Linked DNA regions of Homo sapiens: region 1 is linked to region 2. Evidence: fine-mapped expression QTL. A gene starts in region 2. The other region holds a variant in brackets. All regions are shown on one strand. Distances are between the middles of the regions.

Region 1 (5,000 bases), 69 kb after region 2:
AAACGGATGCCCCTGGCCCAGAGCAGGCCAAAGGGAGGGGGCACAGCTCACAGCTGCACCCTGGCCTTACCACAGTCTCTACACTACAACCAACCTGTGCCCAAAACATGAACCGGCAAGGCCAGGTCAGAGCTAGTCCAAGACCTCAAGCACAGCCTGCCTTGCCACCACGTCACCAGGTGGATAGACAGAAGCAGGGGACATTTTTGCACCCCAAGGCACTGCCCCAGGCCACAAAGAGGGAGCAGGTGAAAAATAACCTGGAAGCCTCAGAGGACCACAAGATCAGCAAGAGTCCACAGGGACACTGAAGGAACCAGGGCTTACCTGGACAGACACAGAGAACTGAGGCAGAGGGGGGCAGAGCCTGCTCCACTCCCGGCCATGCCACGGCACTCCGTGGCAGCTTGAAGCCAGGAAAAGCAAGCCAGGGCAAGCAAGCACCACGCTCTCGCCTGGGGAGATGAGGCCTTTAGCCCCAAGAGTGAATTCTTCTTCATACATAGAGTTGTTTAAATTTGGGAGGACTCTATGGGCAGCCCCAGGGGGATCTTCGAGGCGCTATGTGTCATCAAGAATTTCCTGAGCTCAGCTTGTCCAAAGGTGGTGGGCTGCAGGGGAAGAGGTGAGCTCACCCCAGGCACAATTCCACAGAAACCCACGTCCCTTAGGGTGCTATGGGGCCAACACTAAACCTCCTCCATTTCCGAGATTATATGTGGGAGGAGAGGCCGGGGTGGGAGAGAGGTTCCCAGGGTCTAAAAAGTGTCCCCAGGATGGTGGGGACAGGGGTGGGAAAAAGGAGGGGTCCCAGTGTCTAGAAAGTGTCCCCAGGTTGGCCGGGCGCGGTGGCTCACGCCTGTAATCCCAGCACTTTGGGAGGCCGAGGCGGGCGGATCACGAGGTCAGGAGATCGAGACCATCCTGGCTAATACGGTGAAACCCCATCTCCACTAAAAATACAAAAAAATTAGCCGGGCGTGGTGGCGGGCGCCTGTAGTCTCAGCTACTTGGGAGGCTGAGGCAGGAGAATGGTGTGAACCCAGGAGGCGGAGCCTGCAGTGAGCCGAGATTGCACTCCAGCCTGGGTAACAGTGCGAGACTGTTTAAAAAAAAAAAAAAGTGTCCCCAGGGTGGTGGGGACAGGGGTGGGAGACAGGAGGGGGTCCCAGGGTCTAGAAAGTGTCCCCAGGGGTGTGGGGACAGGAGTGAGAGGAAGGGGGTCCCAGGGTCCAGAAAGTGTCCCCAGGGTGGTAGGGACAGGGGTGGGAGACACGAGGGGGTCCCAGGGTCTAGAAAGTGTCCCCAGGGTGGCAGGGATGGGATGGGAGACACGAGGGGGTCCCAGAGTCTAGAAAGTGTCCCCAGGGGTGTGGGGACCGGGGTGAGAGGAAGGGGGTCCCAGGGTCCAGAAAGTGTCCCCAGAGGGGTGGGGACAGGAGTGAGAGGAAGGGGGTCCCAGGGTCCAGAAAGTGTCCCCAGAGGGGTGGGGACAGGAGTGAGAGGAAGGGGGTCCCAGGGTCCAGAAAGTGTCCCCAGAGGGGTGGGGACCGGGGTGAGAGGAAGGGGGTCCCAGGGTCTAGAAAGTGTCCCCAGAGGGGTGGGGACCGGGGTGAGAGGAAGGGGGTCCCAGGGTCTAGAAAGTGTCCCCAGGGGTGTGGGGACCGGGGTGAGAGGAAGGGGGTCCCAGGGTCCAGAAAGTGTCCCCAGAGGGGTGGGGACAGGAGTGAGAGGAAGGGGGTCCCAGGGTCCAGAAAGTGTCCCCAGAGGGGTGGGGACAGGAGTGAGAGGAAGGGGGTCCCAGGGTCCAGAAAGTGTCCCCAGGGTGGTAGGGACAGGGGTGGGAGACACGAGGGGGTCCCAGGGTCTAGAAAGTGTCCCCA[G/A]GGTGGCAGGGATGGGATGGGAGACACGAGGGGGTCCCAGAGTCTAGAAAGTGTCCCCAGCGGGGTGGGGACAGGGGTGGGAGACACGAGGGGGTCCCAGGGTCTAGAAAGTGTCCCCAGGGTGGTAGGGACGGGGTGGGAGACACGAGGGGGTCCCAGGGTCTAGAACGTGTCCCCATGGGGGTGGGGACAGGGGTGGGAGGAGGGGGGTTCCCAGCCTCCGGCGGGTGTTCCGGCAGTGGGAGGCGGGTGGGAGGGCGGGTCCCCGCGGGTCCACCTCAGCCCGCCGTGCCCCCGCCTCCCGCAGAGCATCCACCTGAGCTTCCTGCGCACCGTGCCGCCCTACTCCCACCAGTCCAGCGTGTGGTTTGAGATGATGCGTGTCTACAGCTGGAACCACATCATCCTGCTGGTCAGCGACGACCACGAGGGCCGGGCGGCTCAGAAACGCCTGGAGACGCTGCTGGAGGAGCGTGAGTCCAAGGTGAGGGTCGGCGCCGCGGGTGGGCGCCTGGCGGAGCCGAGGTGCAGGACGGGCCGCCTTGTGTCTGTGGCTCCGTGTGTGACACCCTCTTCTTTCCATCGTGCATGGTCAGCACCACCACGTCTGGCGAGCGCCCGCCCCAGCCTGTCCTCGGCTCATTTCACTCGCTTTTGCCATTAGTCGAAATCTCCTTCGTGTCAGTCCCTGCGGGGCGAGGGCCAGACCACCTGGAGCTCCGCAAACACCCCTGCCCCGCGCTGCCGAGCGCCCTCGTCCCCTCCTCCTGCCCATGCCCCTCGCTCCCTGGAGGCCCCAGCCGGGCTTGGGACTCGTCACCCTTCCCGCCCACCCTGTCCTGAGTCCCCAGCAGCCTCCCTCTGGGCAAGGTCTCCCCTGTACACGACCCCCACATACCGCCCCTGCAGGCCTGTCCCCTCCTGGCTGGGCCCATTCCCTGTCCTCCCCCGCGTGGCCTCCCCTGAAGCTCTGCACCTCATGGCTCAGCAAAGCCCTGTCCACAGACACCTGCCCCCCAGCCTGGACCGCCCCTGTGGGCTCCACTCCCCTCCTTGCCCCCACCACAGGGCTCCCTCTGCACTCCTCACCAAGACCCATTAGCCACCTGGTTCTAGGACACACTGACCCCCAACACAGCCAGGCGTCCACTCTGTGGGGCTGCAGAGAGATCAGAGCTGGGATTTGGGGGGGTCCGAGCGACCCCTTTCCCCTTCCTTACCACTCCCATTTGCAGTCTGGGGCAGAGCTGGTTCTCGGCTACAGACCCCCGGAGCCCTGGGTGCTCAGCACCTGGGCCAGCTCCTGATCAAGCAGTGGGAGGAGGCCCAGGCTGAGGAGGGCCAGACCTATGGGTGGCTGGGAGCATGTTTCGTGTCAGAGCTGGCTTCATCGGACTTAGGGCCAACCTAGCACCCCCCAAGGCACCCCAGGCCCCGGGAGGGACCAGAGGGCATGGGTCGGGGGTAAAGCCAGGGGCAGACCAGAGGGTCCTGGGAGTACTGTCGTGGGGGGTCTGCTGAGTCTTGGGGGGGAGGGGCATGGGCACCAAGGGCCCCACCCAAGACAGTGCCCCTCACCCCAGTGCCCGACAGGCCCCTCCCCCCAGCGCCCGACAGGCCCCTCCCCCCCAGCACCCGACAGGCCCCTCACCCCAGCGCTCGACAGGCCCCTCACCTTCTGGCATGTCCACCCACGGCCACGGACTCCCATCACACACTCACCCCTGCGCACCCAACTGCCTGCTTTCACTCACAGGTGCATGCACACATTCCCATCACACTCCACACCTCTGGCCACAGGCTCAGGCTTGCCTCCATGCAGCTCCAGCGCCACACACACACCTGGACACGTACTCAGGTGCGCTCCTCACACACACACCTGGACACGCACAGGTGCGCTCCTCACACACACACCTGGACACACGCTCAGGTGCGCTCCTCATGTGCATGCTCACCCTTACTTGCGCCAGCCAGCACAGACACACATGCACACACGCACACACGTGCACAGGCACACACATGCACACATGCACACGCACACACATGCACACACGCACACACAAGCACGCACACACGCACATGCACACATGCACACACACAAGCATGCTCAGACCATCTGGCCCTTCCCCAACCTTCACAGGCCTTTGTGGACTAACCCTCCCATGCTGACACCCACAGGCGCATGCCACCCCTGCAGGCGCACATAACGCACACACACCCTCTTGGGCGCATATGCGAGCCGAAGGGCGTGGGCACCCCAGTTAGTGAGGATACCTCGGTCTCTTGAGAGGCAGAGGGAGACCAAGGAGAGGGAGGGGGAGGGACATGGGGACAGGCCCCGGGGGGGCTGCTCACCTCCCACTCAGGACTGACACAGGTTGGAGTGGGCACTGCTGGGGCCACACAGCAGGTGCACGGCAGGGTGGGGGCGGCAGGTGGGGCTCCCTCCGAACGGTGGACGCGGACAGGGCCTCCTTTTCTCCCGAGAGCGACCGTTTCCAAGAGCACAGCTTCGTGGCAGGGAGCCTCCACGGCCCCGCCCCTACGACCCTCACCCCCAGCTCCACCCCGGCCCCCAGCCCCGCCCCGGGCCTCGGTGTTTGCGAGCTCCAGGTAGGAGCCCGTCTGCAGACGTGCCGAGGAGGTGGTGTGATTGCTTTAGCGCCGTCATTTTCAACCGTTTATAATCTTCTTCTGTGTCTGCATATTTTCTCTGTGCACATTATTCATCAGAGTAAAAAAAGGAACTATGAAAACCTCGACCAACTGTCCTATGACAACAAGCGCGGACCCAAGGTATATATGCATGGACGTGCACGCCACCCACGGCTAGGGAGCCCTGGCCTCGGCGCCTCGGCCACTAGGGCCACTGTCTGGCCCAGCCGCCGAGCCGCAGGCCCAAGCAATGAGGAGAGGCAGCCGGCAGCAGGCAGGAGAGGGCAGGCAGGAGAGGGCAGGCGTGGCGGCGTGGGTGCCTGAGGCCCACCCGCCGTGACCCTAGCCTGCACCCTCGAGGCAGGCGCGGCTGCAGGAGGAGCTGCTCTCCGGGAAGTGCATGCGAATCTCCGAGACCCCAAGGGTTTCCTCGTGGAACCCGGGAGGGAGCCCGCCCGCCTG
Region 2 (5,488 bases):
AACAGCAACTCCCCGCCTTTGTGGGGTTCGCTTCTCACAGGGGAGTCAGGTAGCCAAGAATGCAGAAAGGCAGCCTGGCACGGAGGATGGGAAGGTGCTCACCGAGTGGGCGTGGCCTGGGGAGCTGAGGCCTGACCAAATGCGTCCCCAGCCACACGTTTCTCTGGGGACAAGCGGTCCAGGAGGGAGGAACAGGAAGTGCAGAGACCCTGAGGCAGGCCCGAAAAGCAACTCCATGCAGGTCCAGAAGAGTGCATGTGGGCCTTGCCCCAGGGGTGAAGCCCCCTCCCAAACTCAGTGAGGGCATGTGTGTGGAGGTGGGGGCAGAACCCAACTGCAAGGAAACACAACTGCCTGAGGGGTCCACGGGGCAGCATGAGGGAGATGTTAGTTTTCATTTTGGGTCCTAGATCACTGTCAGAGGTGTGTGAACCAGAGCAACTCCATCTTGAATGGGAGCTGGGTAAAATAAGGCTGGGGCCTACTGAGCTGCATTTCTGGATGGTTAAAGGATTCCAAGTCAGGATGACACAGGAGGTCGGCACAAGATACAGGTCACAAAGACCTTGCTGATAAAAGAGGTTCCGATAAAGAAGCCGGCCAAAACCCACCAAAACCAAGATGGCAACGACAGTGACCTCTGGTTGTCCTTGCCGCTACACTCCCACCAGCACCATGACGGTTTACAGATGCCACTGCAACGTCAGGAAGTTCCCCTATATGGTCTACAAAGGGGAGGGATGAATTATCCACTCCTTGTTTAGCATGTCATCCAAAAAAACATAACAATGGGCAACCAGCAGCCCTCAGGGCTGCTCTGTCTGTAGAGAAACCATTCTTTATTCCTTTACTTTCCTGATAACTTGCTTTTGCTTTACTGTATGGGCTTGCCCTGAATTCTTTCTTGCGCAAGATCCAAGAACCCTCTCTTGAGGTCTGGAACCTCTTTCCTGTAACAGCATGATTTGTTTTTCTTTTTCGGTTTGTTTGTTTGTTTTTTGAGACAGAGCTTCGCCCTTGTTGCCCAGGCTGGAGTGCAATGGCGCGATCTTGGCTCATGGCAACCTCCGCCTCCCAGGTTCAAGCGATTCTCCTGCCTCAGCCTCTGGAGTAGCTGGGATTATAAGCATGCAACACCATGCTTATATATTTATATTTATATTTAATATTTGTATCTATTTTTAGTAGAGACAGGGTTTCTCCATGTTAGTCAGGCTGGTCTCAAACCCCAGACCTCAGGTGATCCGCCCGCCTTGGCCTCCCAAAGTGCTGGGATTACAGAAGTGAGCCACTGCGCCCGGTTTTTTTTTTTTTTTTTTTTTTGAGACAGAGTTTCGCTCTGTCACCCAGGCTGGAGTGCAGTGGTGCGATCTTGGCTCACTGTAACCTCCGCCTCCCGGGTTCAAGTGATTCTCGTGCCTCATCCTCCCAAGTAGCTGGGACTACAGGTACACGCCACCACACCTGGCTGATTTTTGTATTTTTAGTGGAGACGGGGTTTCACCATGTTGCCCAAGCTGGTCTTGAACTCCTGGGCTCAAGCGATCATCCTGTCTCGGTATCCCAAGGTGTTAGGATTACAGGCATGAGCCACTGCACCTGGCCACCATTTGAATTCTTTTATGCAGTCACATATATTACTTTTAGACTTACTATATAGTTTCTAGGAGAAAGTTTTGTGCCCAACTGGCAGAAGCTACCCTTTCATATTTTTCACAAGCAAACTATTTTATTTTTATTTTTATTGAGAAGTCTCACTCTGTCTCCCAGGCTGGAGTGCAGCAGCAGGATCTCGGCTCACTGAAACCTCCGCCTCCTGAGTTCAAGGCCTCCTGCCTCAGCCTCCCGAGTAGCTGGGACTACAGGCGCCTGCCACCACACCCGGCTAATTTTTCTATTTTTATTAGAGACGGGGTTTCACCATGTTGGCCAGGCTGGTCTCGAATTCCTGACCCCACTTAGGACTCCCAAAGTGCTGGGATTACAGGCTTGAGCCACCGCGCCGACCACAAGCAAGATATTTTAAAACCTGATAGTAAAATAACAATGTGGGCGAGGGGCTGCAGAGCGCTCTGGTCACCAGGCAATGGGAAGCAGGAAGGGTGTGCGGGAGGGAGCCCCAAGCCGCGGGATGGCATCCCGGAACCTGGTCTGGTTCCAGCCTCCCAACAGCTCAGCCGTAGCCCAGGCCTCTTCAATGCACTCTGGCCGGTTGTCTCTGCACCAGGAGGTCTCCGTCCAAGTCTTGGTTAGCGCAAAGGTGGCCATGCCACTCTCAGGTTCAAAGCCCGTGCTGGGACAGAACCTAGCTTTCCCCTGCGGGGCGTCCCTGGGGCCTCTTCCTCCCTTAGCTCAATGGTCGATTCCTCTGCCCACGCCAGCTGGCGCGACCCAGAGGGTCCTGGGATCTCTCGGGGCGGGGCGCGGAGTGGACAGGGCGGGCATGGGCCCGGGGCCTGGAGAAGAGCAGGAACGGGGACGGGAGCTCGAGGGAGCAGGCCAGGGCCAGACACCGGAGCGGGTCCAGGGGACGGAGAGGGACGGGGGACAGGCTGGAGAGATGGGGCTGGGCCCTGTCTCGAGTCTCGGACCGGACGCGGGGGGGCTGGGGGGATGTAGACAGGGCGGGGTCAGAGAGAACCCGGACAGAGTCTGGGGTGCGCAGCGGGGGTGGGCGGGCTCCAGGGCAGGGCGCGGGACCGGGCGGGATGGGGCGGGGCGGGGCGGGGCGGGGCGGGGCGCCCGGGGCCCGCCCCACTGGGGGGTCTACACCGCCCGCCCGGTCTCGTGACGCTGGTCAGTGGCGCGGGTCACGAGTGCCGACTTGACAGACGGCAGCGGCGACATGGCTTCGGAGCAGGACGTGCGCGCCCGGCTGCAGCGCGCTGGCCAGGAGCACCTCCTGCGCTTCTGGGCCGAGCTGGCGCCGGAGCCACGAGCCGCGCTGCTGGCGGAGCTGGCGCTGCTGGAGCCCGAGGCGCTGCGCGAGCACTGCCGGCGGGCGGCGGAGGCCTGCGCGCGCCCCCACGGCCCGCCGCCCGACTTGGCCGCGCGCCTGCGGCCCCTGCCCCCAGAGCGCGTGGGCAGGGCCAGCCGCAGCGACCCCGAGACACGGCGGCGCTGGGAGGAGGAAGGTAAGCGGGGTGGGAGGCCCTGGGGGCCGGCAGGGGGTCGTGCCCACGGAGCGGGTGGGAACCGAGGCCGCGCTCGGGGAACTGTAGTTCTCCTCGCTACTTTGAGACGTGTCTCGCCTCACGCGTTCCGGCCCCCGAGTCCTGGCGCCCCAGCCCCAGAGTTGGTTTCCCCTAAAGCGGAAGGGTGGGCGGGTCCCGGGCGTCCCTTCACGGCGCCCGTACCCCCAGGTTTCCGTCAGATTTCTCTGAACAAGGTGGCCGTCCTGCTGCTGGCTGGGGGGCAGGGCACTCGCCTGGGCGTGACCTACCCCAAGGGTATGTACCGTGTGGGGCTGCCCAGCCGGAAGACCCTGTACCAGCTGCAGGCGGAGCGGATTCGGCGGGTGGAGCAGCTGGCCGGTGAGCGCCACGGGACCCGCTGCACCGTCCCCTGGTGTGTCCTGCCTGCCCTACCTCGGCCCGGAGGTACCCTTCCCCACGCCCCCCCACATCCCCGCTCCAGACGCGAGCCCCAACCCCGGCACAGACCGGGACATTGCCCAGAACCGGCCCAAAATGGGGCCTGGCCCCAGCCCCAACTGGACACTGGACCCCGAACCCCGATGCCGGCTCTGGTCCGAGCCCCGTCTGCCTGCAGGGCCAGGCGTACTCGCGGCCGGCTCACCGCGCCTCCCTTGCAGGTACGTCATGACCAGCGAGTTCACTCTGGGGCCCACGGCCGAGTTCTTCAGGGAGCACAACTTCTTCCACCTGGACCCCGCCAACGTGGTCATGTTTGAGCAGCGCCTGCTGCCTGCTGTGACCTTTGATGGCAAGGTTATCCTGGAGCGGAAAGACAAAGTTGCCATGGCCCCAGGTGTGGCCCGTTCCTGAGACGGGGAGGGACCGCCCAGACTAGAACTGGGAGCGTAGTTGGGGGTCCACGCGCCCGGGTTCGCGGCTGCCCCGAGGCTGTGTGGTCCTGGGTTAGGCGCCTCTTTTTCTGGGCCTTGATCGTCATTTGTCACATGGTACACCAACTGGGCTGTCTGGTTAGTGACCAGGGCTGCCTTAGGCACAAGGCCGGGGCTTCCCCCGCCTCCAGCACGTCCTAGACTCCCAGAGCGATCCCTGGCGGGAGCCCTCGCGATGCCCATTCCCTTCTCCGTCTGCAGACGGCAACGGGGGCCTCTACTGCGCGCTGGAGGACCACAAGATCCTGGAGGACATGGAGCGCCGGGGAGTGGAGTTTGTGCACGTGTACTGTGTGGACAACATCCTGGTGCGGCTGGCGGACCCTGTCTTCATCGGCTTCTGTGTGTTGCAGGGCGCAGACTGTGGCGCCAAGGTTAGCGCCCGACTGCGCGGCGCCCCGCACCCGAGGCTGGCCCCGCCCCTCACGGAGCCCCGCCCCTCCGCCCAGCCCTCGGAACCCATCCCTGGTCTTGGCTGCAGGTGGTGGAAAAGGCATACCCCGAGGAGCCCGTGGGCGTGGTGTGCCAGGTGGACGGTGTCCCCCAGGTGGTGGAGTACAGCGAGATCAGTCCTGAGACCGCACAGCTACGTGCCTCCGACGGGAGCCTGCTGTACAATGCAGGCAACATCTGCAACCACTTCTTCACCCGAGGCTTCCTTAAGGCGGTCACCAGGTGTGCGGCAGCAGGTGGCTGCGGATTGCCGGCCAGAGCCGCCTGCGTTGACCAGGGACCCGCGGGGTCCCAGTGAGCTGAGTGCCCTGGGCCACAGCGGCTGTGGTCAGGAGTGGCTGTGGTCAGGCACGGCTGATGGGTCGGGGTGGAGAATGGATCCTGAGCTTGCAAAGGCAGAGGTGCTGGAGATCAGGCACAAGCCGTGCTCAGCAGGCAGCTGCTGTAAGGCTCTGTGATCAAGTCTGCCATCTCCTCCTTCTGGGGACCTGCCCTGGTGCCCAGGGTGCTACCTCTGCTCTGGGGCTTGCCAGTTTGTTTGCCTGGGCAGGGATGTGGCTGATGGTGCCTGGCACTTGGCACAGGGATGCAGGGAGGAGGCCTGTGCCTGCTTCTCCCTGGAGATCTGGCCCTACTCTGCCGCTTCTGTGCCCTGTAGTGTCCTTCTGCCATCCTGTCCCACCCAGCTGGGTGTGCTCAGAAGTGGGGACAGAGCCCCCAGCGGTGCCATATCTGATCTGTTTCTTTCCTCCCCTCTGCTCTCCCGTGCCCCAGGGAGTTTGAGCCTTTGCTGAAGCCACACGTGGCTGTGAAGAAGGTCCCGTATGTGGATGAGGAGGGGAATCTGGTAAAGCCGCTAAAACCGAACGGGATAAAGATGGAGAAGTTTGTGTTTGATGTGTTCCGGTTTGCTAAGTTAGTAGTAGAACTCATTTATTTTCCCCTTCT

Alleles and levels. Alleles are on the strand shown, and positions count from the first base shown. SD is a standard deviation of normalised expression in the study named.
With allele A in place of G in region 1, the expression in subcutaneous fat of the gene that starts at base 2,830 in region 2 is lower (large effect, 2.4 SD a copy in FUSION).

Evidence for each region. PIP is the estimated chance that this variant, and not a neighbour inherited with it, causes the effect.
Region 1: its variant is fine-mapped to the expression of UAP1L1 in subcutaneous fat (FUSION, PIP 0.95).

Annotation. Positions count from the first base shown.
Region 1 is chr9:137,143,536-137,148,535 of GRCh38, forward strand. GRIN1 (glutamate ionotropic receptor NMDA type subunit 1) reads left to right here. Exons shown (of 20, transcript NM_007327.4): 3 at 2,191-2,367. Among named protein-coding and RNA genes, the nearest start is that of GRIN1, 6.9 kb to the left of the region's middle. The variant G/A (reference allele first, on the strand shown) is at 1,884.
Region 2 is chr9:137,074,688-137,080,175 of GRCh38, forward strand. It overlaps UAP1L1 (UDP-N-acetylglucosamine pyrophosphorylase 1 like 1), which reads left to right and starts at 2,830. Exons shown (of 9, transcript NM_207309.3): 1 at 2,830-3,134; 2 at 3,363-3,567; 3 at 3,815-3,990; 4 at 4,289-4,461; 5 at 4,569-4,762; 6 at 5,315-5,455. The coding sequence starts at 2,846. RefSeq lists enhancers at 1-208, 3,554-4,432 and silencers at 2,663-2,752, 2,763-3,012, 3,023-3,082, 3,093-3,192.